6 separate regions of the Homo sapiens genome follow, and regions 2, 3, 4, 5 and 6 are each linked to region 1. Evidence: fine-mapped expression QTL. A gene starts in region 1. Each other region holds a variant in brackets. All regions are shown on one strand. Distances are between the middles of the regions. Region 1 holds the start of TRAM2 (translocation associated membrane protein 2). Region 2 has its middle 35 kb from the start of TRAM2-AS1. Region 3 overlaps TRAM2 (translocation associated membrane protein 2). Region 4 overlaps TRAM2 (translocation associated membrane protein 2). Region 5 overlaps EFHC1 (EF-hand domain containing 1). Region 6 overlaps TRAM2 (translocation associated membrane protein 2).

What was found. PIP is the estimated chance that this variant, and not a neighbour inherited with it, causes the effect.
Region 2: its variant is the best candidate, but not a certain one, in a credible set for the expression of TRAM2 in blood mononuclear cells (TOPMed, PIP 0.60).
Region 3: its variant is the best candidate, but not a certain one, in a credible set for the expression of TRAM2 in fibroblasts (GTEx, PIP 0.82).
Region 4: its variant is the best candidate, but not a certain one, in a credible set for the expression of TRAM2 in esophagus muscle (GTEx, PIP 0.63).
Region 5: its variant is the best candidate, but not a certain one, in a credible set for the expression of TRAM2 in whole blood (TOPMed, PIP 0.63).
Region 6: its variant is the best candidate, but not a certain one, in a credible set for the expression of TRAM2 in naive CD4 T cells (Schmiedel 2018, PIP 0.66).

Annotation. Positions count from the first base shown.
Region 1 is chr6:52,574,044-52,579,117 of GRCh38, forward strand. TRAM2 (translocation associated membrane protein 2) reads right to left here and starts at 3,017. Exons shown (of 11, transcript NM_012288.4): 1 at 2,753-3,017. The coding sequence starts at 2,872. It overlaps TRAM2-AS1 (TRAM2 antisense RNA 1), which reads left to right and starts at 3,159. Exons shown (of 3, transcript NR_103446.1): 1 at 3,159-4,350. RefSeq lists an enhancer at 423-472 and silencers at 823-872, 2,730-3,589.
Region 2 is chr6:52,609,914-52,614,987 of GRCh38, forward strand. No RefSeq gene overlaps it. Among named protein-coding and RNA genes, the nearest start is that of TRAM2-AS1, 35 kb to the left of the region's middle. The variant G/A (reference allele first, on the strand shown) is at 2,052.
Region 3 is chr6:52,549,817-52,554,890 of GRCh38, forward strand. The region is part of intron 1 of TRAM2 (translocation associated membrane protein 2); the gene reads right to left. Among named protein-coding and RNA genes, the nearest start is that of TRAM2, 25 kb to the right of the region's middle. RefSeq lists an enhancer at 2,401-2,570. The variant C/T (reference allele first, on the strand shown) is at 2,897.
Region 4 is chr6:52,506,913-52,511,986 of GRCh38, forward strand. TRAM2 (translocation associated membrane protein 2) reads right to left here. Exons shown (of 11, transcript NM_012288.4): 5 at 2,616-2,674; 6 at 1,322-1,406; 7 at 641-711. Among named protein-coding and RNA genes, the nearest start is that of TRAM2, 68 kb to the right of the region's middle. The variant T/TAC (reference allele first, on the strand shown) is at 2,609.
Region 5 is chr6:52,496,178-52,501,251 of GRCh38, forward strand. EFHC1 (EF-hand domain containing 1) reads left to right here. Exons shown (of 11, transcript NM_018100.4): 11 at 1-1,021. TRAM2 (translocation associated membrane protein 2) reads right to left here. Exons shown (of 11, transcript NM_012288.4): 11 at 1,231-5,074. Among named protein-coding and RNA genes, the nearest start is that of TRAM2, 78 kb to the right of the region's middle. RefSeq lists a silencer at 1,637-1,838 and an enhancer at 2,922-2,971. The variant C/T (reference allele first, on the strand shown) is at 2,984.
Region 6 is chr6:52,539,249-52,544,322 of GRCh38, forward strand. The region is part of intron 1 of TRAM2 (translocation associated membrane protein 2); the gene reads right to left. Among named protein-coding and RNA genes, the nearest start is that of TRAM2, 35 kb to the right of the region's middle. The variant G/GT (reference allele first, on the strand shown) is at 2,555.

The DNA.
Region 1 (5,074 bases):
CCCATTCCCCTTGCACCTCTTCCTGCCGTCACTTCTAGGAAAAGGGTGGTGAGTCCCCAGTTGCACCTACCATCGCACCATATGCATCCCTACATACCCACACATGCACACCACACACTTCCAGAGAGAAACCCAGAAGATCCTAAGTGATATCCAGCCAGTCCTGTGCTTGGTTATGAGGCGTCTCCCCAGGCTTTACTCTGAGTGTGAAGATGCCCACATTTGTTTCTCTGTGGTACCTACAGTATCCAGGACGCTTCTGCTCTCATTTGATAGAGGCAGCAGTTCCAAACTCCCCCTCCCCACCCCCAGGAATACTTATCTCTGTGGAGAGTTAGTTAGTCGGTGGGTAAAGACAGTGAGGCCCCCACCATGTGCCCAGCACAGAAGAACACAAGACCTTCTTACTGGAGGCTTAGGGCAAAGCCCTCTTTCTCCCAGAGAAGCACAGACTGATGATCTCACAAAGTACCTCCAAAAGAAGGAGACACCTGCCCTGTAGGTCCTGTAGGTTCAAGGTGCTATGGGAAGAAGTGATGGGCTTGGCAGGAAAAGGGGGCCTGTAGGCATTTCAACCAGGGGCCTTGCTACACTCCCCAATACAAGCCTAAGGGGGAGGAAGAGTAGTTTTGTTTGTTGTTTTTCTCGTCTTGGGCCTTTCTCTTTCACCAGATACTGGAAGTAACAGCTCTTAACACCTTTCAACTTTTAGAGTGGCAGGTTTAATGCACAGGACTTTCCATAAGACTAGAGACCCAGGGAAGGAGGTAGGTACCAAACTCAAATGCTGGCAGCCCTTTCTGAGCAAAGATAAAACAGGGAGGGCCACAAACCCTAACAAATGCTAGAAATATGACGGAGAGAGCCACAGGCTATGCGAGAAACTTCGTCGCTGCAGCCTGTGGCTTTGAGGTTTACAGCTGTCACGTGTATCTTTCCAGCCACACCCTCCAAGGCTGGGGACACGCACTTGGAGGCCTCTTAGAATGGAGGACAGCAAACAGACAGCAGAGAATGCGCTGGGCAAAGGAAATTCTGTTATTTTGTTAAGCTATTATTATGATAAATAATCACAGGGCTCCAGGCGCAAGAGACTTTTTCATGTTGGTAGGAGATGTTATGGCTTTTGTTGCTGATATGATCTCAGTTAAACCTTACAACCACCCTGTGACGAAGACCAGTTTTATGAACGTCTTTAATGATGGGGAAACTGAGGCTGCAGTCAGTTTTCAGTCAGACTAGTCACAGAACAGGGACTGAGACACACGGATATGACTCTGTGTGACACCACACACTTCCAGGGGAGAACCCAGAACAAGGTGGAGCAAGCCCGACCCAATATACCACTAGAGAGAGCTGTGAGAGGGAGAGGAAGGAGAGAGGGACTGAACTAAAGGAGCACTATCAAAAAGTGGAGTGGAGACCCCAGTCCTAGCACCACCGTTTATTTCCTACAGACCCTAAAGCTCAGCCACGGACACATTCATTCATCCAACCCTGACTTGGCCACCACAAGAACGTTCCCAGCTTGAGGGCAGCTTCGCCAGCCAATTAGGGCCCTTGTCATTCGTAGAGATACAGGGAACCCGAGACAGAGGGACAGGGAAGGAAATTTAGCCAGGCAAGCCATCCTCCATCTCCAAGGAAGTTTGTAAATGATCACAGCTTCCTAACCCAACCGTGAGAATGCAATAAGCAAGCTGACGCAGAAGGGAGGACAAGGAGTCTCAGGAACCAGAGGAGACCACGGTGAGAGTGAGGGGAATGTCGCTCACATATCTCACTTCTGAGACAAGATATACCGCAACAAACCCATGCCAAGCTTCCTCCAGTTCTTCCCACTTTTGAATATCACATTTTTCTTGCTCTGCAAGAGTAGGGAATCCTTCCCATCAGTCTTGTGAATTCTGACCCCTTGCTGGCTTTCTACAACTCCCTGCCTGGGAGGCCGACACCAGGACATTGCTGTTGGGGGTGGGATCCCCATCCTCTGCCCCCCACTCCTACACTATAAGAGAATCAACTTTCCCCAAAAAGTGGAGGGTATCCCTGTCTCTCTTCTTGTCTCTGTAAAGGGGGTGAAGCTCTGGGTCGCCGCAGATGGATCTAAAGGGACAGTTCACGGAGTGGTAAAGGATATCCAAAAATTGGCCTTCTAGAGCACAGCAAAAAAGTGGGAGCGAGACGAGAGCAGAAGGCCACTGCTGGGATGGGGCCAGGGCCACACGTGAACATCCGAGCACGTTCCAGAGCTGAGATGCAAAACACCCAGAAAATCACATAGGAAGTGGAAAAGGTTCTGGGTCTCTCCCACTGGAAAAGCCCAGAAGAGCTAGTGGCCACCCCTTGGGGCAAGAGGGGGTTGTGCAATGACTGCGGGTCTGGGAGTCTCTGGGCTTGGCTCCTGGACGCCAGAAAGGGAACCCCACGCGTCAAGCCATGGTGGCAGCGCGGCGGTTGGTTCGAGGCCAGGCTGGGGTTTCAGGGCTGCAGACAGAGCTGCAGGATACGATGAGTGCCCAAGGGGGCGGCAGAGCATGGCATGGCTGGCACGGCGCGGAGCTGGGGGTGCTGTCTGGGCTGGCCGGGGTACAGGCCGGAGGGGTACAGTGCACAAAGCCGGGGTGCAGATAACGTACACGGCAGCCAGGAGCCTCCGATCAGAGGAGGGCCCGCTGACCTGCAGGGGTGTGCCGGGCGGTGCACGACAGGGGGCACTGTCCCTCCAGCTCCCTCCTCCCCAGGCTCTCACCTCGAACATAAGCCCGATGAGGACGCAGAGCACCAGGCAGAAGCCGATGTCCGCATGGTTGTGGATGACGAACTCCTGGCTGAAGAGCGGGTAACTTTTCGTCCTCCTGCGGAAAGCCATGGCAGCGGGCGCGCAGCGGCCGGCGGGGCCCGCACCCTGCGCTCACGAACCGCAGCGCAAACTTCTCCAGCACCGGCCCGGTCCGCCCGCCGGCCCGCCGCCCGCTCTCCCACAGCCGCTCGCCCGCCCAGCGCGGAACAACTTCGGGGCCCGCCCCCTTCCTCCGCCCGCCCCCGGCCGCCCGTAACCGCCCCCGGCCGCAGCCCCCGCCCAGCCCCCGCCCAGCCCGCGGCCCGCACTCGGCGCGCCTGGCCCCGCCCCCCGCGGGCTTAACCCTCTAGCCGCTGGGCACGCGCGGGCTACCGGGGCGGAGGCGTACGGGGGCGGCGAGCGGGGCTCGGCTCCTCCTCGTCCCGCGCCAGCGCCGCGCCCGGCCGCATTCTCGGGGCCCGAGGCTCAGCCGCTCGCGGTGGAGAAAGCAGGCCGCGGAGGAGGCGGGCGCCCAGGCCTGCCCGGACAGGAAGTGGGCCCAGCTTTCCCACTCCTCGCTCCGCTCCTTCCTCCGCGGGAAGGGCAGGCCCCGGAGGCAGCGAGCGCCCCGGGGGTGGCCGGGCAGCCGGATGCTCCCGGGGTTGCGGGCTGTGGCCCCGGGGGCTGAGGGCGGCGCGGGTGCGGCGGAAGCAGGGAAGCCGCGAACCGGCCTTCTGGCTGGCCACAGCGCCCTGCACGGACGATCAGTGAATGGAGATTACTCAAGTATTTATCGAGAACTTGCAGTGGGCTAGGCACAGTTCAGGTAGATCAACAAACCGAAAGACCCTGCCCTAGGGGAGCTTTCGCTCCAATGCGGGGAGAGGGTGGATGATTGCAGTTTTGCCCAGTAATTTTTGGGACCCTCATGCCACCATTAATTAGCTACACACATTTCACCGAAAGTCTACCTTACATATTAATCAGAAGAAGTGGAAGAATAAACACAGAAGAAGCAAAAAAGGAAGGAACTTTCTCACTGAAAGTTTCTATTTAATATTAAGTCTTAAAAGTACTCCTGGAAGGACAAAAGGTGTTCTTAATAAATTATATTCGCAAATATTGGATTTAATCCTACCAGTAATGAAGCAGTCAGTTACTTTCTAGATGTGCAGAAATACGTAATGAACAAAAAAAACTAATTCCTATTCCATTTTTTATTAGGTCCACAGTTATTTCACTTCTAAATAAATATGGTTTTTTAAAAGTGGCACGCGGTGGAATGTAATTGAGACAGGATGGAGTTCCTAGAGAAATTTTACTTCCTCAATCTGCACTCCACCTTACTTAAAATACAGTCTTGGGTCTGTAATTCCCTTATCTGACTCTCAAGGAAATGACAAAGTAATGCCTAGATTGGACTAAACCTCATTTAACTTCAAGGCTGACCTTTCTCAAAGTTGAACCTTCGTCTTGTGAGGAACAGAAAGATCAAGAACTCTGAAGCACCTCGACTTTCCACCTGTGAAGATGTGTTCAAATTTGCAACGTGCGGCCACACCTATGAGGTTGAACTTTATACAATTGGTTTCTTTATAGGTTTAGATGGTTGAATTTAAGTTACCCCCACTGCTATTATTATTATTTTGAGACAGAGTCTTAACTCTGTTGCCCAGGCAGGAGTGCAGTGGCGAGATCTGGACTCACTGCAACCTCTGCCTCCTGGCTTCAAGCAATTCTCATGCTTCAGCCTGTAGCTGGAACTACAGGTATGTGCCACCACACCTGGCTAATTTTCGTATTTTTTAGTAGAGGTGGGGGTTTCACCATGTTGACCAGGCTGGTCTCGAACTCCTGACCGCAAGTGATCCGCCATTTTTTGAGACGGATTCTCTGTTGCCCAAGCTGGAGTGCAGTGACGCCATCTCGGCTCACTGGAACCTCCTCCTTCCAGGTTCAAGCAATTCTCCTGCCTCAGCCTCCTGAGTAGCTGAGATTACAGGTGCCCTCCACCCCCTGCTAATTTTTGTATTTTTAGTAGAGACAGGGTTTCACCATGTTGGCCAGGCTAGTGTTGAACTCCTGATCTTCAGTGATCCACCCGTCTTGGCCTCCCAAAGTGCTGAGATTACAGGCCACTGCACCCAGCCTTTTGCTACACATTTATACTAAACTATATTATGGGGCAGCACAGTAGGTTTGTTTACACCAGCATCACCAGAAACACGTGGTTAATGCATTGCGCTACAATGTTACAGTGGCTACGACATCACTATGTGATAGGAAATTTTC
Region 2 (5,074 bases), 36 kb after region 1:
AGGATGGAAGTTACAATCTTTTGCAACCCAATAATGCAACTGGCATACCCTCAACATCATCATATTCTAAAATTTAGAAGCAAGTTACTTAAGGTAAGAAGATTACACAAGGCTGTGCAGACTAGAGAATGGGGATCACTGGGAGTCATCCTAGAGGTTGCCAGCCACATGTGTTAAGAATTTATTCAGCATCCCCTAGCTGCCTGACACTGCTGGGTGTTGGGACTGTAGTGATAAACATCCTGCTCTTATCAGAACTTGCAATAAAGCTGGGGGAAGGGAGGAGACATTAAATAGATTATTGCAATTGTGATAAGCACACTAAATAAATACAGGGAATAAAAGACGCCCATCGTTGTCTAGGTTGAGGAAGATAGAATGTTAGGCAGGGAAATTTCAGTGGAGACTTGAAGGACTGGCCTGACAGGCAGAGGGAATCCGGAAGCAAGAAAGATCATGCTGCAATTGGCAGAAGAGTTGCTGGAATATAGTTTGAGAGTGGGAAGACCAAGAGAAGGAAGTGGGGCTTATCTGCTGCTATGTTAAGGTGGGTGGTCCTGAGAGGTGACATAGAAGTCCCCTTTGGCCACCTTTCTCCTTGTCCTGCAGGTCATCTCTCCGCTGGCCTCTGGACTGACTGCTAGTCCTGAGGTTGTGACCATGCTTGGACACTCCTGACTCCTCTTTGTCCTGTAACAATGTCCTGCTGATATTGTACCAAATGATCCCACATGGCATAGTATTATAGCAGGACAGGTTCTTCCTTCTACATATCGTATTTTTTGAACAGTTTTCAAACAAAACTAGACATGATATACCCCTAATATATAAAACAGATAAAAGCAGAGCCACTTAGATCTGAAAGTTACAAGAGGAGAAGGGCACTCGGGAACGTGTTCCCCCACATTCCCATGGTGGTCCCCAAGCGACCCCTCTGGAGCTCTAGGACTCTGCAAATTCTCATTTGAGAGGCACATGTGTAGGCCACAACATTGCCAATGGTTGCTCTCAATGACTCATTCATTTGATTACTTGTATTTAATCTTTATGATGTGTCAGGGATGAAGTAGGCACTGAGAATACAAAGGTGATTAAAACAGTCTCTGCCCCTCTGTAAACTCACTGTCTAAGGAGGGATTCACACGGATAAGTGAATGCTGTGGTGTGAATGTGTCCCCCAGAAGTTTCTGTGTTGCAAACTTAATTGCCATTGTAACAGTATTAAGAGATGGGGCCTCCAAGAGGTGATTAGCCCATGAAGACTCTGCCCTTATGACTCACTGCATTATAAAGTGATGTGCAATTAGAGAGGTTTGAGCAGCAAACAGTGGGCACAGGAAGATGTCACAAGCAGAGAAGGCTTAAACAAGAAGCCTGGTGGTGCCTGTCTTTGAGGATTTTTCTCTTGCATCTGAAATTCCTCCGTTACTCTGCCCATTTCAGACCACGCCATCTAGATGGCTTTCTGGAGCCGTTTCTCACTAGGCTAAAACAACTCTCCTATGCTTTTTTTTTTCTTTTGGGATGGTGTCTCACTGTTGTTGCCCAGGTTGGGCTGCAATGACGTGAACTTGGCTCATTGCAACCTCGGCTCACTGCAACCTTCATCTCCTGGGTTCAAAAGATTCTCTTGCCTCAGCCTCCTGAGTAGCTGGTATTACAGGAGCCTGCCAGCATGTCTGGCTAATTTTTGTATTTTTAGTAGAGATGGGGTTTCACCATGTTGGCCAGGCTGGTTTTGAACTCCTGTCCTTAGGTGATCCACCTGCCTTGGCCTCCCAAAGTGCTGGGATTACAGGTGGGAACCACTGCACCCAGCCAACTCTCCTATGCTTTAAGTAGAAAAGCCTCAATTGCTCCCCTAGGTTCTATAACAACCATGATGTTAGAAAGTTTGTATTAGATTTTAAATTTCTCATAGTTTCTGGATTGGAATAGAAAATGAGCAACTTTACATGGTTCTGTGCCCCAAATTGTCTTTCTTCACTTACAGGAAGGAAGGAGTGAGAACACTCCCTGTATCCTACCCTAGTATATTTCCTGCCTACCAG[G/A]GCTCTGCACAGATGAGGAACTGGCAGCCTTTGACCTCCTATCTGATCTCTGAGTCTTAGCCGTGAGGTCACCTATCAGGTCTAGCATGTTCTGTTGGTCTGCTGGATCCTGCCTCATGTATTTGACAATCCAGAATTCTAAGGTAAAATGGCTTGCATTTGCTGATTAATTATCCAGGGATTTGGCTAATCCTTCATGATGATGAACTAAAAGTCCCTACCAGTCCTCAATTAAAAAAAATATGTAATATTATTTAAATAGAGATGAGATCTCGCTATGTTGCCCAGGTTGGTTTTGAACTCCTGAGCTCAAGTGATCCTCTTGCCTTGGCCTCCCACAGTATTAGGATTACAGGCGTGAGCCATCTTGCCCAGCCGACACCAGCACTCAAACAGTAAATTCAGTAAATTTACAGCCCTAAAACTGTAAAGGACACAATGGTAGGCTGAGGTTATACAAGATCAGAACAACTGGGGCATTCAGAGAAAAAGAGTTCAGACCGGATGTTGGGTTGTACAAGCCAGGCAGTCTGTTGTTTAATTGTTTTATCTCTTGGTGACCATTTGGCATCTTTTTGCTTAGCCTCAAGGCATGTTTAGATAATAGCAAAATAATCCAGCCCAGCTCTCTCCTCCTTCATAAGAGCTTTCTTCCAACAAAGAGTGAGCTCTGTCTTTGTCTTACAAACTCAGATCACCTCTGGATTTTTCCATATCCTGTTAAGTAGTAGTATAGTATCTTGGGATACTTCTTAAAAGGTTTCATTAAAATTTTACACTGTTTTCCTTCTCCCGTGATGCACTTTGTCTGCCAGAGTAGATTGTAAGCTGTTTTTGGGCTCTGGCAATGCTTTACTCATATTGGTATTTCTTATCCTTTCCTATCTCCAGAATATTTAGCGCAACGTCATACAGGAAGTAGGCACCCTATAAATATTTGTGTATGAATGAATAACCATGGCGCTTTCCTCAGGCATTACACAGCCAGTCTCAATGACAGGAGGGTGACCTGTGGGTGCATTTGTGGGGGAAAGGAGTTCTGGCAGGCAGTCTGTGTGGGCTACATATGGTTCACAGCTGGCACACAACCTCTGTGGACCCCAGGTAGAGTATGTGTGAATGTCAACATCTCTATGCCCTTAAAAATATCCTTAATTAAAATTGTATGGAGGGCAATTACTATTCACTTAACCCCAAGTTGAACTACACATATCACTAGGCTTCACTGGAGCCCCTTCATTTTGGTGTCATCTAACCATTTGTGCCACATTTCACTTATTTACCCAAGTAAGCATTCTTTGGAAACAACCAACCTGAGGATTCTATTAAGAGCAGCATGGTTTTTATTTCCTTTCACTATTGCTGTTTACCTAGATGACAGGCAATTAGTTTCACCTCCTTCAACCTAGATGAAAAGTTGAAGAGCGAATAATACATCCAGATTGTCATGATGCCCTTATTCAAAGACAGGATTTGCTTTTTAGTGCAATTATAGAGACTGTGTGTTCTTAGCCTTGGATAATCCTGCCAGAAGGGGTTTAGACTTCTGTTCTTAGGATAGTCCTTCCCGGTTTTGTGACTGAGTGATTCTCTCATTCATCAGGCAACTTTCCTCCAGCCATTAAAGGTGAGAAGGACGGGTAATATTATGAATTGTTTATCAGGCTTATGGACATTATGAGAATGAATTGCTTTTGGTTTGTCCCTTTTGGAAAAAAGATACACCGTAAAATATGGATTTGTAGACTTACCATTTTCCCAAATTGGATCCTGTTCCTATTTCCTTTATTTCTAGCAATAGAAGCATTTTCTACTTGACAACCTTCCAGAGGCAGCCAGTCGACTCTTAACTAAGTCTTCCTTTTCAAAGTCTGTGCATCTGTCCTTTTTTATGTACCTCATTTAGTCACCTAGTGACTACTACAGAGCACGAGTGAAATGCAAGCCATTGTATTGGTTGCAAGGGATAGAAATAAGAATAACACTTGGTCTCCCAATTAGGAAGCTTGCAAAGCTCCGTCAGTGTCACAATTATCAGCTATATTCTCAAAATTTTTCCTCACACCCGGGAAAGTGAAGTTTCAAGTGTCATCTCCCTCCTGCAATCTCTTATTAATTTTCTCTATCAAGCATTCTACTGACAAACTAATATTCTTAAGCAAACATTTTAATCATGTCATTTCATGGATTGAACACATGGACACAGGAAGGGGAACATCATACTCTGGGGACTGTTGTGGGGTGGGGGCAGGGGGGAGGGATAGCTTTAGGAGATATACCTAATGCTAAATGACGAGTTAATGGGTGCAGCACACCAGCATGGCACATGTATACATATGTAACTAACCTGCACATTGTGCAAGTGTACCCTAAAACTTAAAGTATAATAATAATAATAATAAAAGGAAACATTCAATAGCTTTTCACTGCTCACAGGATCAAGATCAATCTCTCTTTCCTTTTTTTTTTTTTTCTTTTCTGAGTTGGAGTCTCACTCTTTCACCCAGGCTGGAGTGCAGTGGCGTGATCTCAACTCACTGCAACCTCCACCTCCCGGGTTCAAGCAATTCTCCTTCCTCATCCTCCTGAGTAGCTAGGATTACAGGCGTGTGCCACCATGCCTGGCTAATTTTTGTATTTTTAGTAGAGATGGGGTTTCAGCATTTTGGCCAGGCTGGTCTCGAACTCCTGACCTCGTGATCCGCCCACCTCGGCCTCCCAAAGTGCTGGGATTACAGGCATGATCCACCGAGCCAGCTAAGATCAATCTCTTAACCTGAATGTTCAAGAGTTTCTAAAATCTAAGATAACCTTATTTCCTGAATTTACTTCCCATAACTCCTCATTATACATTTTCTGCCTGGACAAATTGGTCAGATTACTACACTAAAAATATACCTCCATTTTTTTTTACTCCAGTCTATTCATCCATATATTTAAGAATGTACTGGATGCTGGGCATGGTGGCTCATGCCTGTAATCCCAGCACTTTGGGAGGCCGAGGTGGGCAGATCACTTGAGGT
Region 3 (5,074 bases), 24 kb before region 1:
TAAATCTCACCAGAAATCAGGGCAAGAGTAGCTTAAAGTTAGATGTGTTGCACTATTTGGCTTATTACAATCAGGAAACGTCTGTCCAAAAGTCCTATTCTCAGAGATGGTAGTATTTCAGGGACATCAGTTTAGCTTTGCCACCCTTTGATTGCCTGTTGTCATATATGAGGTAGGAGTCAAACAGAAGGCAGAATAGCATCTGTAAGTTCTACTGGGCTGCACAATGCTCCATCCTACCCTGTGTCCCAGAACAGACAGCTTCACCTTTATGGAGTACTTCAGTGGGCTTCCGATGGAATCTGCAGAACATGAGAGAGCATGAAAGGGGTATTCATCACCTGGCTCCTTTCCTGCTGGACAGTTCTGGCAGTCACTGCAACCCTCCACCAAAACTCCAGCCCCTCCCCTTCAACCACAGCTCTCAATGGTATTTCCTCTCTCCCTTCCTTCTTAGTTCTAGATCCATGCTATCCTCAGCCCCTTCAAGCTTAGGGATAGCTCCCCACGTTCGCAAGCCTTAGAATGCTTTACTGTTCCTTATCTGTTTCCCCTGAGCCAGTCCACGCCCTTGTTAATAGTGCCTACATAACCATTCCTCAATTACCCCACCTGTTTCCTGTTGGGACTCTGACTGATGGAGATATGCTACTCAAATAAAAGAATACTAACACCATATGATAATAATTAACCTCATCAACGTAACTGCTGGCAATGGGACACTATTTTTATTTTTTATTTTTATTTTTTTTGCGACAGGGTTTCACTCCCGTCATCCAGACTGGAGTGCAGTGGCAAGATCTTAGTTCACTGCAGCCTCTGCCTCCCAGGCTCACGTGATTCTCCTGCCTCAGCCTCCCGAATAGCTAGGATTACAGGAATGCACCACCACACCCGGCTAATTTTTGTACTTTTAGTAGAGATGGGGTTTCATCATGTTGGCCAGGCTGTTCTTGAACTCCTGGCCTCAAGAGATCCACCTGCCTTGGCCTCCCACCTGCCTTGGCCTCCCAAAGTGCTGGGATTACAGGAGTGTGCCACCATGCCCAACCGAATAGGACACTTTAAACCAGCAAAATTATCCTCCACACACATCCTGGTACTACCCCTCATGAAACGCATGGGAGGCAGACAAATCGCCACTCTTTATGGGCCATCTAATTTCCAAAGGACCAACAGTGTTGATAACCCACTTCAGAAATGGTTTTCTTTAGGCATGACACCCTGGGACTGGCTTCTCACAAACTCAGATCAAGATAAACCACTGTGGTGGACGAACAGTTTCCTGCCTGAGTTTTTCAAGGGGGCCTTTACTGAGGCAGGAGGAGGTGAATATAGGATTTTGAGGACACCACTGGCCTCAGGCTGCAGTGACAAATATGAGTCCTGGCTTCATGAACACTCGATCACATAGCTTTATTATTTTGGAAAAACATATCCGTTATGAATGGGGACTGGCTCTACACTAACCAATAATGTCTCCTAATTAATATCTGATCTGTTTCAGCCCGGAAGGCAAAGGATCTTTTACCTTTATGTGCTCAGAGTGCCACACAGGGTTGCTTGGATGTAGGGATTACGCTGCTAGTCCCTAGCCATTTACCTCCCTTTCACAAAGGGATTCTTTCTAACGTTTTCAGGATAGAGCAGCAACTGGAGTGAGGGTGGGCATGCAGGGGAGGGTGAATGAGGGAGGAGAGAAAGTCTGCAAACAAACGGGCCACTTATCTCCAGGAGTCTTTCTACCTTTTCCTACAGCTGAGTAGCTTGGGGGCAGGTTGTCTGCCAAGCTTCCCTGGCCCGTGTAAACACTCTGGCACCAGCTGGGGTTTGGAATCTGCTGAGTCTCTGCCAGCTGGCAACCTGGAGATGGGTCAGATTAAAGGAATGCATAATGAAGAAGTGGGTGGGAGACAGAGGCTGTATTTACACAGAGGGGGTCTGCAGGGGTCAGTACGGCGCTAGCCAAAGGGGCCTCTGGAAGTGGAAAAATAGGAAGGGAAGAGGAAGGGGTTTCAATGTGCCCAAGCACCATGCCCCACCCAACTGGCCCAAGACTGTTATGTTCATTTATTTTTTTCCTTTTAAAAACTGACTTCTTTGTCCCCTTCTCAGTCCCCCACAGCATCTCCCAAGCCAATTACACACAGCCCTTTGAAAGGTTTGCAGCTGGCCGCTCGAGAAGGCTCAGCGTGATCAGACAACACGGACACTTGATCTTCTGAGATCCCAATTTGGGAACGTTAACACGGAAACCCTAGCCACGTGCTGACAAGCAGGCCCTGGGCCACATTCTGCCCCAGACTGAGCCCTGGCAAGAGGAGAGGGCACAGATAGCCAGCAGTCTCAGGCAGCCATCCTGGCTTCCAGCCTTAAAGAGAGCGAGATTCCAGGCTCCTCCCCCATGCAAAGCCCAGGGGGCACGGATGCAGAGAGGACAGCCCTGGGACAGGACCAACAGGCTCCCCAGCCCTTTCACTACCCCGAGGAGGCAACGAAGACAAGAACAGACTGAAATCTGTTGGGTACTTGGTGGCCACACCTGCTAGGAAGGCCACCTGCAGCTCTACTGAAGCCCATGCAAATAGGTAAAGCTCAAATGGCTGTACATATATTACTAAGAGGAAGCAGAAGGGAGAAAAGTGCAGTGAGGAGGCAAGAGACCTGTTCCCTGACAGCTCAGCCACAAACCCGACGGGCTGCTTCCAGCTGCTCCCATCCACCTCACTGGGCCTCAGAGTTCTCATGTTTTAAGGGTGTTCTCTGAAGTCCCTTTGTATCCACGGATTCTTCCCCATGCTTCTGTGACACGGCTTCACTTCCAGGCTCCCAGTGCAAGCCTCAGCTCTTCTTGCTTTCTTGGAAATCTCTGCTGTAGCAGCCACTTCTATTCCGG[C/T]GACACTCAGATCTACTTTTCCTGCTGAAATCTTTCTCCCCAGGATGGGAGGTGGGAGGCTGCATCTTTACCTACATAGTGCATGATTAACTCCCGTTCAACATGCCAAACCTGGTGCCCAGGAGAAAGCTCTATACTTGCCTATGTCCCAGGCTGCAGTCAAAGACTCCCCACCTTTCCTTATAGCCCCTTGTTGGCTTTTTCCTTTACTATTTTATTAAATCCATCATTTCTACTCCCAATGCTGCTAAGAGCTTCATATTCTCATTTGCCACCAGCCTGTAGGAGAGACTTCTAACTGGATCCTCAGCCTCAAGACTCAAAACCCCTTCCTCCCCTCCCACTATCCATAGCTAGAATAGCCAGGCATATACACACAAACATACACGCACACACCACAGCCCCTCCATTGCCTTCTGCTGCTTAAAGGATAATGTCTAACTCTTTAATCTGGCATTCCTAATCCTCCCTGCCTCTCCACATTTGATTATCACAACTTTCCAAACTAATATGATAGTCCTGGATGTCCTAAAGGATATATTAAGGATATTATTCCATTAAATACTCTCCAAGATCAACAAATGTATTTGGTAGAGAAATATGTAACTCATTAATACTATATGAAGGCTCTGACAAGTCCTGCAATAAAGAAACAGTAAAGAAACAGCCTAGCATTTCCCAGGGCAATCTGGCCCAGGAACCCTTGTGTAGCAGCATGTGTAGTAGCCGCTTTCTTTGATTCTCTGAATGTCCTTTCTTGCCTGCACTCCAGCCATCTGCTCTGCCTTCCATTTGTTCATCTGCCTTGGCTTTCCTTTGAGAGCCTGCTCCAGCCTCACCTCCTCCTTCCTCCTCCCCATTCTACCATCACTCCTCTTGGCTGCTTCCTCCTCACACCTGAAGCACTCACTGCCTGTACCTCTTTGTTGAGAGATAGTAGAGCACAATAGTTAAGAGCCCAGATTTTGGATTCAGAAAGACCTGTGTCAAAATCCCAATTCTGCCCTCACTAACTCTGAAATGGAGTTGTTCAGTTGCTTGGTGTAGACAGAGATAGAATCCATAAAGAGGACTATGGAGGGGACTAGTGGGATTAGAAGGTCAAATGTAGCACAAGGCCTAGCACATCACAGGTATTCAATAAATAACAATTAGTCATTCTTCCTCTTGTTTTTTATCATTGCTTTGTCATTTATCATTTTCTGGGTTCTCCTGCCCCTACCCTTTGCATAAATCAAGCTTAACAAATACGTGCTGATAAGCCACCAGCAGCAACAGCTCCATCTTCCATGGGACAGCAGGAAGACACCCCAACCTGCCAGCCCTGAGCACACCATCCGCCCCAGCACACCATCTGCCCCAGCCTACCAGCCCTGAGCAAGAGGCTCTCCCAGGCAATCAAGTCCTAGAACTTCACAGAACCCCTCAATGTTACCACCCAGCCCTGTCCCCACCGCCTGTTTGCTTACTGCACCCCTGGGAAGGGATGCGGAGGCAGGGCATCCCACTTTGGTTTTGAAAACCAAAGTGGGCCAGGCGCGGTGACTCCCACCTCTAATCCCAGCACTTTGGGAAGTAGAGGCAGATGGATCACCTGAGGTCAGGAGTTCGAGACCAGCCTGGCCAACATGGTGAAAACCTGTCTCTACTAAAAATACAAAATTAGGCGTGGTGGTGCGTGTCTGTAATCCCAGCTACTCGGGTGGCTGAGGCAAGAGAATCGCTTGAATCCAGGAGGCAGAGGTTGCAGTGAGCAGATATCATGTCACTGCACTCCAGCCTGGGCAACAGAGTGAGACCCCATCTCAAAAAAAAAAAAAAAAAAAGAAAGAAAGAAAACCAAAGTGAACAGATCTCACCCAAACCCAAAAGCTGACTGGGTAACTTATTTCCACAGCCTCTCAATGGGGCAGCAATGGGCTACTGTGTTGGGGTTTAAATTTTTCAAATTTTCACCATTTCAACAACCATTTCACCAAAGGCCATTTCATCCATGTGCCTTGTGTAGTTAATGTCTAGAAGTAAGAAGTTACATTTCCACTTAGAGTCAATCCTTTTTTTTTTTTTTTTTTAACAGAGGGTCTTGCTCTGTGGGCCAGGCTGGAGTGCAGTGGGGTGCAACCACAGCTCACCACAGCCTCAACCTCCCAGCCTCAAATGATCCTCCTACCTCAGCCT
Region 4 (5,074 bases), 67 kb before region 1:
AGTGAGCTCTGTAAGTGCCAGCCTAGAGAAAGTGTGGGGTGCTTTTACTGCATGGATAACACTCAGCAAAAGCCCAAATTATCAATGACACAGCTTATTAACATCAAAAGGATTCTTTTCATAAAAGAGGCTCTTCGAGAACTAATATTATAGCAATTCTTTCTGCCTCTAGAACAACCAAGAGAGACCTACTCTCCATGTCATTATAAACCAAAGGGAAGGGAATTCCAGGGCTACGAGCTCTAGCAGTGTTTGCATTGGACACTGTGAGGTAAGAGCCCAGCTTTGGGAGGCCTTCAAGCTGCAAAGCCATGGTTCAAAGGCCGACATCCACTGGAAGTCTTCCTGGCTGTCTCTGTTGAGGGTCTTCTTCTGGGTTGCAGAGCAGATGATACATACTGTGTTATGGTGTTCATCACTCTCAACTGTCCTTACTTATGTCTATAACTGTCTCTTCAGAATGAGAATGAACCACTGAAGATAAAGAATCTTCCATTACCATCTTTGTATTGCCAAGTCTTAGCATAGTGCTAGGCACACAGAGGATGTCAACAAATGCCTGATAATTATATGAGTGTGTGGACAGATGCATGGACATAAAAGGGCAAGGAAATCTGGCTGGCTCCATGGTCTCACTCACTTTAAGAGGTATGCTCCAGCTATATGCACCAGGTACAGGCAAATATACTGGAGCTGGCGGGGAATTTCCTCCTGGAAACAAGAGAAGCAGATGGTAAATTTGCTAATTCCCTAACTGAAGATTCAGGGAAGGGGGAAAAGTGCAGGGGGATGAGAGAGGGCCAGGCTCCTCTGGGCTGCTTTAACACACAGTCCCATGTCCCACGAGTCCCACAGTCCCACTGCACCAGGCTGCTGAAATTCAAGGGCATTCAGGTCCATTCCCAAATTCCAGCAGCCTTGGGTCTAGTGTCAGAGGGTGAGGTTTGGATTGAGAAATAAGAGACAGGGACTGGAGAAGAGGGCTCTTGGAAATAATTCAGAAGGAAACTATAAAAAGTAAAAATAAAAAAAGACTATGGAAATGGCAAAGACCTCTCCTTTGACATCTATAAGATGAGAGTTAGGTTTCCTCCAAAGCCACAGGTCTGGTGGAAGAGGCAGGCAAGAGACTGACACTGGTGGTCAACTACATGACACTTCTCCAAGAGATGACTCAGCATGTTGCTCAATCCCCAACATATTCCTATCACCACCCAACACTCCATGCTTCTGGAGAAAAGGAAGGGAGGTACCCCTGGGAATAGCAGGAGGGGAGTGGTCAATGAATGGCCTCCAAGAAGGGAGAGAAGTGAGCACTCACCTTCCGTACCTTCTGGAAGTATAGCTCAGGAAGTGCGTGCAGCCAGTAGGCCAGCTGGCATAGGTAGAAAAACTTCACCTGGAAGCTGGAGACAAGGGGGCAAGTCACACGGGCAGGATAGAGAAAAGTGTCCCTGCAGGTGCTGGCCAAGCACAGGAGGGAAAAGCATGGGCTGAGACTCTGCCTGTGAGGAGCTGGTCCAGGAGCAAGGGAGTTAGGCCAGTGACCGCCGCACCCTGAGCCTGGGACCCTGGCTTCTCCATTGGCCTGTGCCCTTGTTCCACATACAAAACCACTTAAAGGACACGGAAAGTCCACAGAAAGAAACAAACATGATTAAAATAGTGCAGAGGAGGAGGAATCCTTCAGCCTTGAGGAGGGAGCTGATTACAGAGCACTGTTGGAGATAGGGACCAACAGATACACTGAGACAACAAACAGCTCTAAGTAGCAAGGGAAGGTTCTAACTCAGCCCTACATCCTTTGCTATTATTGCTCTTAAAGATCTCGGGAAAGGCAGCCAGGCGTGGTGGCTCACGCCTGTAACCCCAGCACTTTGGGAGGCTGAGGCAGGTGGATCACCTGAAGTCAGGAGTTTGAGACCAGCCTGGCCAACATGGTGAAATCCCATCTCTACTAAAAATACAAAAATTAGCTGGGCGTGGTGGCACATGTCTGTAATCCAAGCTACTTGGGAGGCTGAGGCAGGAGAATCGCTTAAACCCAGGAGGTGGAGGTTGCAGTGAGCTGAAATCATGCCATTGCACTCCACCCTGGGCAACAAGAGCAAATCTCCATCTCAGAAAAAAGACAAAAAACAAAGATCTCGGGAAAGGCAAAGGGTGGCCTCCTGAGGGAGATGGCCCCAGGTATTGCCCTTGGGGTACACTGCCCTCTTGGCAGCACTATATGAGGCAGAGGACACTGGCTCTGACAGACCACCAGCCATGGCAGGCCAGAAGGGAAGACACTCTGTGGATGTCAGGGGGTCGCCAAGAAGGTAGAAACCCAGAGGGCATTATGGAGAGAGATGTTCTGCTTCTGAATCTGTCTCATGCAGTTGAGGGACCTCTGTGATGGGAGCCAGCACAGATGGAATTTCATCTGGGGATTCTCTGGTCAAGCATGCTGAGAAGAAGTGGCTTCCAGACAAGTCTACCATCCACAATAGGCTCAGGGCATGATCTGCTCGTCAGGCCAGCTGGGCCTGTGGTGTTCTGGCCACACTCCGCTGGGACAGGAAGGCAGTGGGCCCGGTCGCTCCTCCCTGGGGCTGAGTCAACAGAA[T/TAC]ACTCACGGGAGGTGCACATGCGGGTAGTCTTCCCAGAGGCTTCTTGGGTTTGTTAAGTATCCTTCCTGCAGTGGGCAAGAAGAGAGACCATTTAGAGATGTGGACGTGAGACCTGCTGGGGCCCTGGGACCGGTCCAGGGGTCAGGGATGCATCCAGTCCCCACCTGACAGAAAGAGGAAGGAACAGGAAATGTGAAAACAGAGAACTTCTCTGTGTGGGACCCCTGGCGCTTGGCTGGTTTCTTTACTGTGGAAGAGTCATGCTGGAGTAGGAAGGGCCACGCTCTGAGGTCCAACGACCCATATCTGAAGATGAGTCTGACAAGCGAATTAGTCTTGCTCCTCTGAGCAAGCTAATTAGTTTCCCTAAGCCACAGCTGGCTCATCTGCAAAACAAAATAAAAATACCCACCCTCACAGAGTTATTGTTGGAAATGAATGGGATAGTTTATGTGCCAGTGTCTAGTCCTGTGCCTGGCATGCAGGCGCTCAGGAAATGCCTCCATAATGAATAAGCAAATGAACTCTAGAATCACCACTCGCTGGAAAAATGAAAAGCCTACTTTGGCTTTTCACAGCCTGCTGAATAAAAAACATGGCAGGACCCCATAGGCCTCACCATGCAGCTGGACTCTGACACCTACCACACTGTGTCATTACTGTCAGTTGTTTCCATTACTCTTGCAAGTCCCTTCACACTAGGGCCTTTTCTTGCCTATCTTTAGAATTCTAACATGTAGTCCAGCACCTTATATGGGGTGGGGATGGCAACATGAAAATCCTTCCATCACAAAACATCTAGAAATGCTGGGTGAAATCTAATGAATATTCTTTTAAATGCAAAGAGCTGAGCTCACAGTAAGAAAGGGAAACCCCCTGGGACCCAAAGGGAGAGGGAGGCTAAAAGGCAGAGCAGTAAAGTGACACTGTAGCAGCCCAAAAGGCACTAGTTATGGGCCAGGGTTTTTGTGCCCATGTGAGAACAGAAGATGGTGCCTTGGGAGGTGGAACCCAAGACCTTGTATAAGACCAGGACCTCTGAAAGGCCACAATCTCAGAGAAAGGAAAAGACTAGAAAGTGTTTGCTGACCAACACAGGGAAATGAAGATGTCTGCTCAGCCCATACCCAAGGTGAAAACAAAATCATTTATTCTAAAAATCTGCAACCTCAGGTTCACTCTGAGTTTGGAGGTGAAATATACTACCTGTGTGATCCAAAAGCCGCCAAGGTAAGAAATTAGAATTAATAGTGTGGTGGGCCAGTGATACCCTGGGGACATACCCTCATCCAAGGATGCTCCACAGATAAAACCTTGCTAAAGATGAATTTATAATCCAAGAGTACAAAGCATGGGAAGAAATAATCTACCACAAGCAAGAGTCAGCTGAAACTACAGGAGTGCAATACACACCAGTTGGTTGAATGAATGAATGATGAATGCTTTGGGCAATTTCTCTCTTCTGAAGAAAGGGCTCTTATTTGTCACTCAGAGAAGGCAGAGCAGATTAGATTAGGATGACTTCATTTTAGAAATGGGAAAATGAAAAAACAGATAGGAAGGATCTCCTGAAATAAGATAGTTTTGTTTTGTTTTTTTGATATGGAGTTTTGCTCTTGTTGCCCAGGCTGGAGTGCAATGGCACGATCTCAGCTCACTGCAACCTCTGCCTTGCAGGTTCAAGCGATTCTCCCGCCTCAGTCCTCCTGAGTAGCTGGGATTACAAGCACGCAACACCACACCCGGCTATTTTTTGTACTTTTAGCAGAGACGGGGTTTCACTATGTTGACCAGGCTGGTCTCAAACTCCTGACCTCACTTGCCTCGACCTCCCAAAGTGCTGTGATTACAGGCGTGCACCATTGCGCCCAGCCAAGATAGTTTTTCAGTAGCACAGCTGAAATCCGAGTTGGGCCACAAGCCTTCTGGTCCAATAACTTCAGGCTAGGTTGCTTCAGTAAATCAGAAAATCAGCTGAGCTGGTGGCTTTGATGAGAAGGCTGAGAACCTCAGATGTTCACACTGGGATTAAAGGCAGAGGTTTTACAGTGCTCAGAATGAGGCCAACAGGGTTTAGTAAGAAGCATTCTAGGTTATTGTCTATTAGGATCTTTAGTTGTATTTCCAAGTGAGGGCTGATCCACCCACCTTTGAGTCACTAAACGCCCTGTGACCTATCAGCATGCCTTTCGGGTATAGTCCACGGCCCTAATCCCACAAACTTGGGCCTCCATGAGCACAATAACCTGACTGATAAGTCCTTTTATCGGATACATCTATACCACTGTAGTCACAGTCACCTGGATTAGAAGGAAATGATCTCACTTCGAACTTACATGGCCTCATTTCTAATCTCTTCTCACTACCACTCTCTCCTCCCTGGGTCACGTGCCGATTGAGGAATAAAAGTGGATGAGGCTCTCGGGTGGTGGCGTGTGTGGTGGCGGTGACAGTTGTGAGCTCTC
Region 5 (5,074 bases), 78 kb before region 1:
GAGTTGAAAGATTCTAATACACACACACACCCACACACACACACACACAAAGAGAGAATGAGAATTATTAAGATTAGCACTGGTAGCTGAAGCTATCAGGTCTAACTGAAGCATTTGACTAAGACTGCTTATAGTGCTTACGGCTTTGGGACTAATAAAAATCTGCCTTGCGGGTAAAGATGGGCTGTGAGTTAGCCACTACTCAGAAACCTGGGCCTGTACCTTGTCTGCACCATCAGGGGGCCTTGAAAATACCATCCAATTAAGGTGTATCAAATCCATATCTATAGGCTTTGAGGGTATTTGGGACACATAGGTAGAGAAGACGTCTCTAAATGTTGTCCAGAGAATCCACTTGGTTAAGTGACTCCTGAGTATCCTGCTGGCACATAAGTTCATTTTAAAAAGCCAATATGAGTGCTTTATATGTACCATGAACTTAGCATTCAGTATCTCTAAATCTCTCACCATGACTCCCCACAAAACATGAAACCCTTTTGACACAGATGCACAAAAAGACTCGGAAGGGTTAACTGCTTGAGTTCACCTAGCTTCTCATGGCAGAGCAGGACCCAACTCTACAATGAAGCTTGCCATGCATCAGAACCACTCACCTTCACCTCAAGCAAACATTTCCTCTTTCTCACACCCCATGGGTGTCCTTGACTAACTGCCACCTGTAACTGCACTCATCTTTTGAGATCTTTTTCCAAAGAAAGATGGTTCTGGTAAACACAGCAAGCAGCTACAGCCAACAGCAGCCATGTAAGTGACACCAGCAATCCCCACTATTACTAATACTTGGATGTCTTCTAGTCAGCACCAACATATTTGTTGGCCTTTACACAAACGAAACCCCATTTCCTCCAAGCTAAATAACATCATAGTATAGTAGGCATCAAGGATGATGTGCTTGTTTCTGGAGCTTCCTACCCACAAACCCCATGTTAAGAAAACCTCTTTTCCACTTTACTATTAAAGAGTCAAATAAAAATGATGCTTATTGCTATCCAGCACTTGACATAACTGACTCTCCATCCTTAATTCCCTAATTCATATCACAATGGACAAATACGGGTCAAAATATATAAGAAATGACTAATATAGTGAAAAATAATAGACATGAGGGCTAAAATTCATTGCAAACTCCTTTAAGCAAACGTAAACATCCACGTTAAAAGCATCACTGTATAAAAGCACGTCAAGGAAATAATTATGAGACAATTCTGATAATTTTCTGCCTTTTATTGTTATTTCAGAAAATATTTGATCATTTGTTCCAAAATGTACATTTAAAAAATCCATACAAAACTGTAATTTGTTTTAAAACCAGACAGAAACAGTGGAAAAATGATTTTGAAAAAAAGTTCACCAAAAGCAAAAAGACACCCCTCCCCCCAACCCTTTTTTACATGAAAGCATAAATACGGCAGGTACAAATTTTCCTTGAGTTCCTTGTTGAAATTTGGTCCATATGAACAGGCTAGAGTAGAAAACAGACACTTTGTCCACATTTGCATTATCAGTTGCTCAGGGCACCAGCAGCCTTAGTTCATCCTTCAGATGTTTTTTTAAACAGAGGAACCGAAAAATGAGGTTTACAGTCTCATCACATGAACACTCAAATCTGTACCCAAGGAAACAGCGGTATTATATTTACTGTCACAGCTAGACCCTATCAGGTGAACAGGGCTCTCCACCTGCGGCTGTTGCTTCGCAAAATATCCTTCCTCTCCACGTGAACAAGTAGCTCTAGAGTGCTTTTAGGCAGAGTGACGGTGATGTCATGGGCACCACGCCAATCTTATTCCTGGACAATGACTTAAGCCCCATCGTGAGAATGGTTTTTTCCTCTTCAACACATTTTTTAAAAATAGACCTCTAAGATGATGCTACATGTTCTAAAAGAGTGCCACAGAAACCCACCCAGGATCACAAGAATGACAACAAAAGGAAAGTGGCTATTTCTTGTGTAAGGGATGACGACTCCCCCTCCCATGGGTCCCATTTCTCCCCCAGTTGCAGGTGTTTTAAGGGACAGAAAGGCTGTGGAAAGGACCACTGGCTGGGAGAGTTATTGCACAACCCGGAAGAGTGAGAAAAACGTGGGCGGGCAAGGGGTAGGGGAGAGGGTTGCTGCGACTAAAACAAGGTAACACTGAATTAGGAGCTCGAACAGTTCTGCAACAGTCAGACATGTATGTGTTTATGTGTTAGCACTTGGAGACTGGGAAGTAAAAGTAAACACCTTTATCATATAAACTTTGGGCTGAATGGGAAGCAAAATAGACCAAAAGAGGTTACGGCAAGTGGGCCTTTTAAAAAAAATCTGGGGGTGGGGAAAATAACGGAGAAGGAGTTTGCTATGTGGGGCCAGAGGAGAGTTTTCGAAGTGGGGGCTGGAAGCTCTGGGCTTCTCTTAATAGGTATGCTTGTGGTTGGGCCACCTCACAGACTTCCACAGCCACCCAGCTGGGCCAGAAGAGAACTGACACAAGGGAGAAACCAAAAACAAAACAGAACACACCACAGACCCTAATCCTGGGCAGCGGGGTTAGAAACAAATGGGGTGAAACTGTCACAATCCGTGTCCCTTTTATATATAACTATACTGAGGTATGGTGTCCTTGGCTGCCGTCGAGCCCTGGCAACTGGGGGCTGGCCACGGAGTACAAGTTGAAAACCACACAGCAAAGTAAGGCACTTATTCTCACACACAGGCGCACGCACGCAATCTGCTTGGGACAAAAAGTCTACAGGGGTTGCCAAGCACGAAAGGCTACATGGAGACTGCAAATCCCAATGCTCGTCTTTATAGCTCTGCCACTCCAGGGAACTCCATAAAAGAATGAGGCAGCTTTCACTGGGGAGAACTGGTCTTCAGCCTTTGCAAGGTGGAGCTAACACTCATGTGAGTAGTGGGGTAGAGTGAGAAGTTGGTAAAGTCTTCCTCACTGGGACAACCTTGAGCTGGAGAGAGATC[C/T]TATTTAGGTTTTCCAGTCATCTGACAATGACCTAATCCTCCAATAATCCTGAAAATCCTCTCCTGAGAAAAGGAACCATAAGCTCGGAAGGCAGAGTGAGGGAGGAAGAGCACTCCATTGTCTTGACTCAAAAGCTTTCAGCACTCCCTCTGTTAGAGGAGAGAGCTTAGAACATCAAGAATTGAAGTTTGTGCACTTGTGCCATAGGCCCTTAAGCAAAAGAATTAGTTATGTGCAGACTTCCCTACCTCTCACACCAGGCCTAGAAAAACCAACTAGGAAGGCTGAAGCATACAAAGGAAACCCAAGCGAAGGCCTTTTCTAGGCACAAGGGGGTCGGCAACCCACTTCCAATTAAAGCATCCATGGAAGATAAGAATTTTGTTGTGGAATCCTGGGAGGAGATGCACTCTTTCACCCAACCTCTTATTAGCTGCTTAGAAAAAAGAAGGGGTACTGACAAAGGAGGTCCCAAAAGAGACCCCAGAAGCACACACCCACCCCAAGCTTCAGGGGTTCTTAGGGTCCCAGGGTTTCCGGTCAAGAGAAGGATCTGTGAACGTGGCCAGGGCAGAGGTGTCTATTGGGGTTTCTTAAATGTTGGGAAGTTATGCCTTGGGACATGAACAGACAAGTTTCTCAGCAACCATTTCGGTCTGGTGGCCCAGACACACATGGGATTAGAACTGACTCAAAAGGGAGGACAGCAGATCCCCCGCCGGCTCAGCCTGCTCCCCTCTCACCCAGAACCATCCCCTACCTTCAAAAGGAACACATGCAATTTATTAATAGTGCAGCTATCAGCGCCCGGATGGTAAAAATAACTCCCATCATCACTGCACCTCCAAGGAGGGGAGCGGGTAGCACAGATCCTTGGTCCACCAGCGCCACCTCCCTCTCCTCCTGCTGTGTCTGTTGGCTTCCCCACAAATGTAAGTTAGTTAGCCAGGGCTGTCGAGAGGCCACAGTTGCTGGGGTAGGTTTACGTCTTTTCTCCTGCTCTTGGTGCATGGTGCTGAGCTCTCAAGCTTGGAGGTGTCTGGCAGAGCCTTCACAAATGGCTTGGCACTTTGGGGCAGGAGAGAATGCATAAAACTGAAGAAAACAGCCAAAGTGGCCAAAATTAGAACAAGCTAGCCCAACACGCTCATAGGATGAAGTGGAATTATTTCAGCTCTGGCAACACAGTCTGTGTCAACCTGCCACAGACTTGGCTCTGCTGTGAAATAAACGTGCCAGGGAGGGTGGCAGGGGGAGGGGGGTGACAAAGTACCCTACAACTACCCTCTAACCACCCCCCCCAAACATCCCTGAAGCCCAGGCTGGCAAGATGCCAGCCCCACTCATGGTCTCAGGGTTTTTTTTTGTTTTTTTTTTTTTTTTTACATAAAATAAACCCTTAGCACACCCGTCCACTGGGAAGCAGAGCCTAAGCTGACCCCGGCCACTGGGCTGGTGGGACCACATCCAAGGCATGAAGTACTGGCAGCACGGGGAGCTTGCAAGAGACAGGGACATGAAGTTGTGGCGTCTCTGGCACGCAAGTGTCCTGGGACAGAGCAATGGAAACCTACAGGCATGAGAATGAGGGTTGCTTGATGGCAAGATTTCAGCTGCTCTGCTCACACTACCTCTCCAGCAACTGGCACAACGCAGGCACCTGGCACATCCCAGCATGCCATACATATCTGTTGAAGCCACAACTCAACAGTTTAACCTGGACTCACCTGAGAGAGGCCTCCTGCATGTGAAGCCCTGCCAATGACACAGCCTGGAGAGCACCTAGGATGGGTGTTCTCTAATGGGGGAGGAAGGTGGGCTTAGGAGGCTGCTGGCTGAACATGCGATTTGCAGTTATTAGGCAAGGTGGGGGGCCTGAACTCAATTATAGACTCTGTCAGGGCTGTTTGACTAAAGTGGCTAAGGGATCCCATATCAGGTCTGCTGTGTTGAAACCAAACTGCCCTTTTACCAACGTTTCTGCTGTGCAGCCCAGAGAAGTGTCAGGGAAGGAGAGGGAGAAATGGGGGAAATACATATTTTCAAAAACACTGTCTCACTTCCTAAGGGTAATCAAAAGCAACCACGGG
Region 6 (5,074 bases), 35 kb before region 1:
TCTACAGGATGAGAGCCGGAACTGGAGGCAGAGTGTCGCCTTGTTTGGCCTCAACTGGGAATGTGAGTGTTGGGCAACCCAAAAGTGTTTGCAGCTCTGCACATCTCTGTGAATGACCAAAGAAGCTGATTTGGGGGTTACAAATAAATCTCAGCAAGTAAGCGAATTTGCAAAAACAAAATCCACAAATAATAAGGATCAAACGTATCAGGGAAAACCTGAACGTCAGCACCATGAGGGCCAAGATTTTTTTTCTTTTTTAACAACTGTATTCAGGTATAATTTACACAACAAAAAAAAAAAATCACCCATTTTAAGTGTACAGCTCTAAAGCATTTATCTTTATTTTTAAACTGTCTCTTCCTTGGGGAAACATAAGCTGTAGGAGCGTGGGGATCTGACCTGCCTTGATGATCTGACTTGCCTTGTTTGAGGTGCACATCCATGGATGGCTTCAAACTGCCCCAGAACAGAGCGGCACTCAGCAAATGCTTAAATGAACACAGTGACTAAGCAGGAGAGAGTCGGTGCTGTGCTCAGCTATCTGACCCTCATCCTGTCATCTGTCCACGATTATTCTTCTCTGTATGTCTTCTCTCTCTCGGTCTGTCCCAGAGCTGGGTGAATAGTAGGTTTCTCATAAATTCCTATTTGACAAACTCATACTGTAAGCAGCTATAATATTTAGTGACTACAGATGAATGCTTAACATGTTTTCTGAACATGATTCTGAGAGAACAGGATCTACGGCCATAATCATGACAAAAATACTAGATCCCAGTATTTTTCCATCCCTAGCCCCCCTGGTAGTAGCAGCAGAAACCATTCTAAAAAGTGCAACTTTCTCTGTAAACAGCCATGCTTGCTCCCACATTACCATATCTCAACAAGATGGTGTCAGTTTCCCTGGTTTATAGATGAAAAAGCCAAATTTGGGGCACAGAGAGATAAAGTAGCCTCCCGAGACCTCACAACTATACAAGCAGAAAAGGCAACATTCAACTTGATTTTTTAAAAACCTTGTCCCAAAAACAAACTTAGGAGGCACACAATACTGCACATAGAATAGAATGGTAATGTAAAATGGAAGCAGGAAAGAACACAAAAAATATGCATTTTAGGCAAAGAAAAGAAGCAAGGAATGAGGCTGATCCACAAAAATGCATTCCAGGAAGTCCTACTCATTGGCTAAAGGTGGCCAGAAATTTGGCTCCAAGCTTTTCTGCAGCCACCTGAAGGAGTGATCAGCTTCTAGATTGACCACATCCATCCATTAAAAAAGCAAAAAGCACTAGTCAAGAGCAGACTTACTTCTTCAGCCTTCTTCTGTGCCTTAAAAGGTCCTTTAGCACCCCAAGTCTTCACTCCATGACCCTCTCCCGACCTCAGACTAGGGATGAAACCACTAACAAGTCCCTCTCCGCAAGCACCAGCTGAGTTCCTGTAGCACACAGGGCTGAGAACCAGGAGCCTATTAAAAATGTCATTCCAATTATTTCTCATCCCTCTAAGGCTGTTTATAGGAAACATTATTGAGTTTAATAGCATTTTAAATGCCAAGCTCAGTGGGTAAAAGGTTAAAAGTGACAACGTGCTAATACACTAATGTAAAAGGAGAACACTGAATTATGTAGGAAGGGTCACATCACACACACACATATACACAGAGAGAAAGAGAGAGTGAGAAAGAGAGAAAGTTTCATTAAATTTTTAACTAAAACAGGGCATCAAACACAAAGGCAAAGGCCTTGAGCATGCTTGTGTAGCCATAACAAACCAAAACTGTTTCACATGCCATGCTGTATTAGGGGCACATGAACCTGAGCTCTTGGCTGCAACTAGACCAAGGATGCTGGTGAAATAGCTGCTTCCAGCTAAGCATAGTGGATGTGGATTCCAGTCCCAAGTCTGCTGTGGGCCAGCTGGGTGACCTTGGGCAGGACATTTCACCTCTCTAGACCCCAGTTTACTCATCTATTAATAACGACAACAACAGTTAATGTTATCGAGTGCTTATTTGGTGCCATGCATGAGTCCAAGGGCTTCACATAAATCTATCTCATGTCATCCCCACAATGACCCTACAAGATAGGTACTAATCATGTCCCCATTTCACAGATAAGCACGGGAAGGATAAAGCCAAAGGAGCAGCTCAGAACGAATGTCCTTAAAGGTCCTTCTCACCCTCAGCTCGAAAAGGTAAACTTTACCTGATTCTACTTACTTTCCAATGCCCAAAACGCAACCTTACACTGACAAACTTTCTAAGAGGTCTTTCCAGAAGTTTAAAATATATTGTTGCTTCTTCACTTTGTGAAGATAAGGTCTGGGTATCACCTATGTCTGACAGAGCAAGAAAATAAGGCCTCTCGGGTTAATCCACCACCTGCCAGCCACAGGCACTGGGTACACCTAGGCTTCCAGATGCCCAGATAGGTTCTCCTTTCACTGCAAGTTGTTAGCTGGTCACCAAAGATAAAAGAGAAGAACTGTGATGAAAGCAGTTTCATGGCTTCTCTTTTAAAGTATTAAATCCTTTGGTTCAGTTTATTCT[G/GT]TTTTTTTTTTTTTTGGCAGACACATCCATGCATTGGCACTTGGAAGGGGCTGTGTGGGCAGACCAGCCCCCGGGGGCAGACAGGGTACAGAAGGCCTTATTTTACAGGAGCAGCTCTGCTCTTAATGACTTCTGTCCCACGGACACCACACCTCCCACCTAAAGGACAAAACACAGAGACACATATGTCCCACGACTGACAGTGAGGACCCTCATTTTTTCTTCCTGAGAAACACAGGGTAAAGCCAAGTGACAGGTCCTGCTGAGGCTGGGAAATTAGGTACCTAAAACTTCCCTTCTTCTCCCAGCTCGGCCTGTTTTTGGAAGCCAAAGGGTCTTCACTAAGGCTTTCCCCAGATTGATTTTGCATCTTTCTGCGGAGGAAGTGAATAGGAAAATTTCAGGCAGACAAGAAAACCTTGGAAAGTTACGCCCAATTGGTGGGGAAGAGATTTTTGGGTTTTTTTTTTTTTTAAAAAAAATAGTCTTTTAGCCTTTTTTCCTGGAGTGTTTATGTCCCAAGCCCACTGATCACCTGCATGCGCCAGGTATGTGGTCGGGGTGTGATGGACGTGGGTTTGCAGCCCCTCCACTGCTCGATAAAAGGCAGATACAGCTGAAACAAAGATGCTTTTCACTTGTGCTTTCTGAAAATCTCCGTTTTGAAGGGCCAGAGGCTGTCTGTGAGGGCTGAGCGCCTGAATCACAGGGGGCAGAGTTATGACAGTACCTTTCTGTGTGGCTTTTAGCAACGCCTAGAGATTCTGGTTTTTCACCTGAAAAACTGCCTTGATACAAAAATCAGGCAAAGCTAAACAAACACGCACACAACAGATTCTCTACAAGCCTGTGATCACGATGTTGAATAGACTCACTATTAACAGTTTTGATAGCAGTTTTAGATTAAAAGTGACATTGTGTATTTATGAAAAAAACTCGAAATTTGAATAGCCACAATAAAATTATATTACTTGGTTTGTTACAGTCATTGATTTAAAAGTCTAAACTTTATATTGGGATACAGAGGAATGTAGAAAGAGTCACAATAAAGGGTTTAAAAAATCTTTGAAGTTGGGCTTTTTAAAAAAGAGAATAAAGCTTGAACTTGCCATAATATACATCCCCAATTTGGGAAATTAATCGGGTACTGAAAAACAGAGGGTGGCCTAGGGAAAGCCCTTCCCCACTGCCTTTATATCCACAAGTTAATTATAACTTTAAGAAGACTGTGTATTTATGCAATTTATGCTGGTATAGCTTGAACTTGGCCTTCTACGTGCTTTATAGATAGCCTTATATAAAACATACGAATTTGCTGAAGTAAATGTATTACTTCTTTGAGAGCCTTAATATATATATTCTCATCCTCCCCTAAAAAAAAGCACTGACTAGGTATTTCTAATACTTACCACTTGATTATATACTTCACTCTCACTCACACCCACCTGCCCCCACCAAGTAGCTTTTCCCCTTATCTGGATAGCATAGCATACTCATAAACCATTCCTTATGGAAGCTAAAAACTACATAAAAAATTTTAAATGCTCAGGCAAAATAATTTTCCAGAATAGTGACATTCTTAATATTTATTTCTCCTGCATCATGGGGCAGAGTTCATATTACTGGTTGTGTTTGGATATGAGTAAAACACACATTGGTCAGAACAAAATGTTTTTACTTTTGGCCAAAAGCCACCTGTTCTGATGCAGTATCATTGATACATTAAAAATAATAACATAAAAAAGAAAGGATTATGGAGTGAAAAATTTTAGGTTGTGAGTTATTTTTGGAGAGTTCAGATTAGGTAATATTTTAGACTTGACTACAGAAAAGAAACCCCTCACCGGTGTAGCACAGTGTCATTTCAGCTGTAGTTTTTAAAGATGTTTTCGCTCCGTAAGACAGAAAGCAAAAAGAGAGGAGGGTCATTCTAATCAGTATAGATGTGTCTGCGACATCCTGTCTGTCACTAATCTTCAGCAAGCAACAAGAGTGGGTGCCAGGGAGAATCATCCCCAAGGAACTTCTGGCATTTCCTGGTATTCAGGGAAATAAAAGGATTATTCAAGGTCTCCACATACTCAGGGTAGCTGGACCAGGCAGGACCCAGGTATATTTGCCTTCATTTGCTTGTTTGCTCTTAGAGAAAGCCAGAGTTGGCAGACAGTGACCTGCTGCAACCATTTCAAATTATTCTCCACCACCTTGAAAGTTTCAAACATCAGCATGTTGACCCCCACATTTTGACTGAAGAGCTAGGCACGTGGATTAGAGCCTGCTAAGAAAATGAACCATGAGTTCACACAGCGATGGAGCAGGGTGAAGCCATCTCCGGGGGCCATAAACCAGGCCCGTCAGCAGGGCTGCAGGCCAATTCTCACAGGAAGCCTTCAAATTCCTCTGGGTATTTGTGTAGGGGCACATAAAGACAGGCCTTGACCCTGGATGTCAACCTCCGCCTATCATTAAACTAAGCAAACTGAGGCCGGAAAGTGAAAATATGAGTTTTTTAAATGTTAG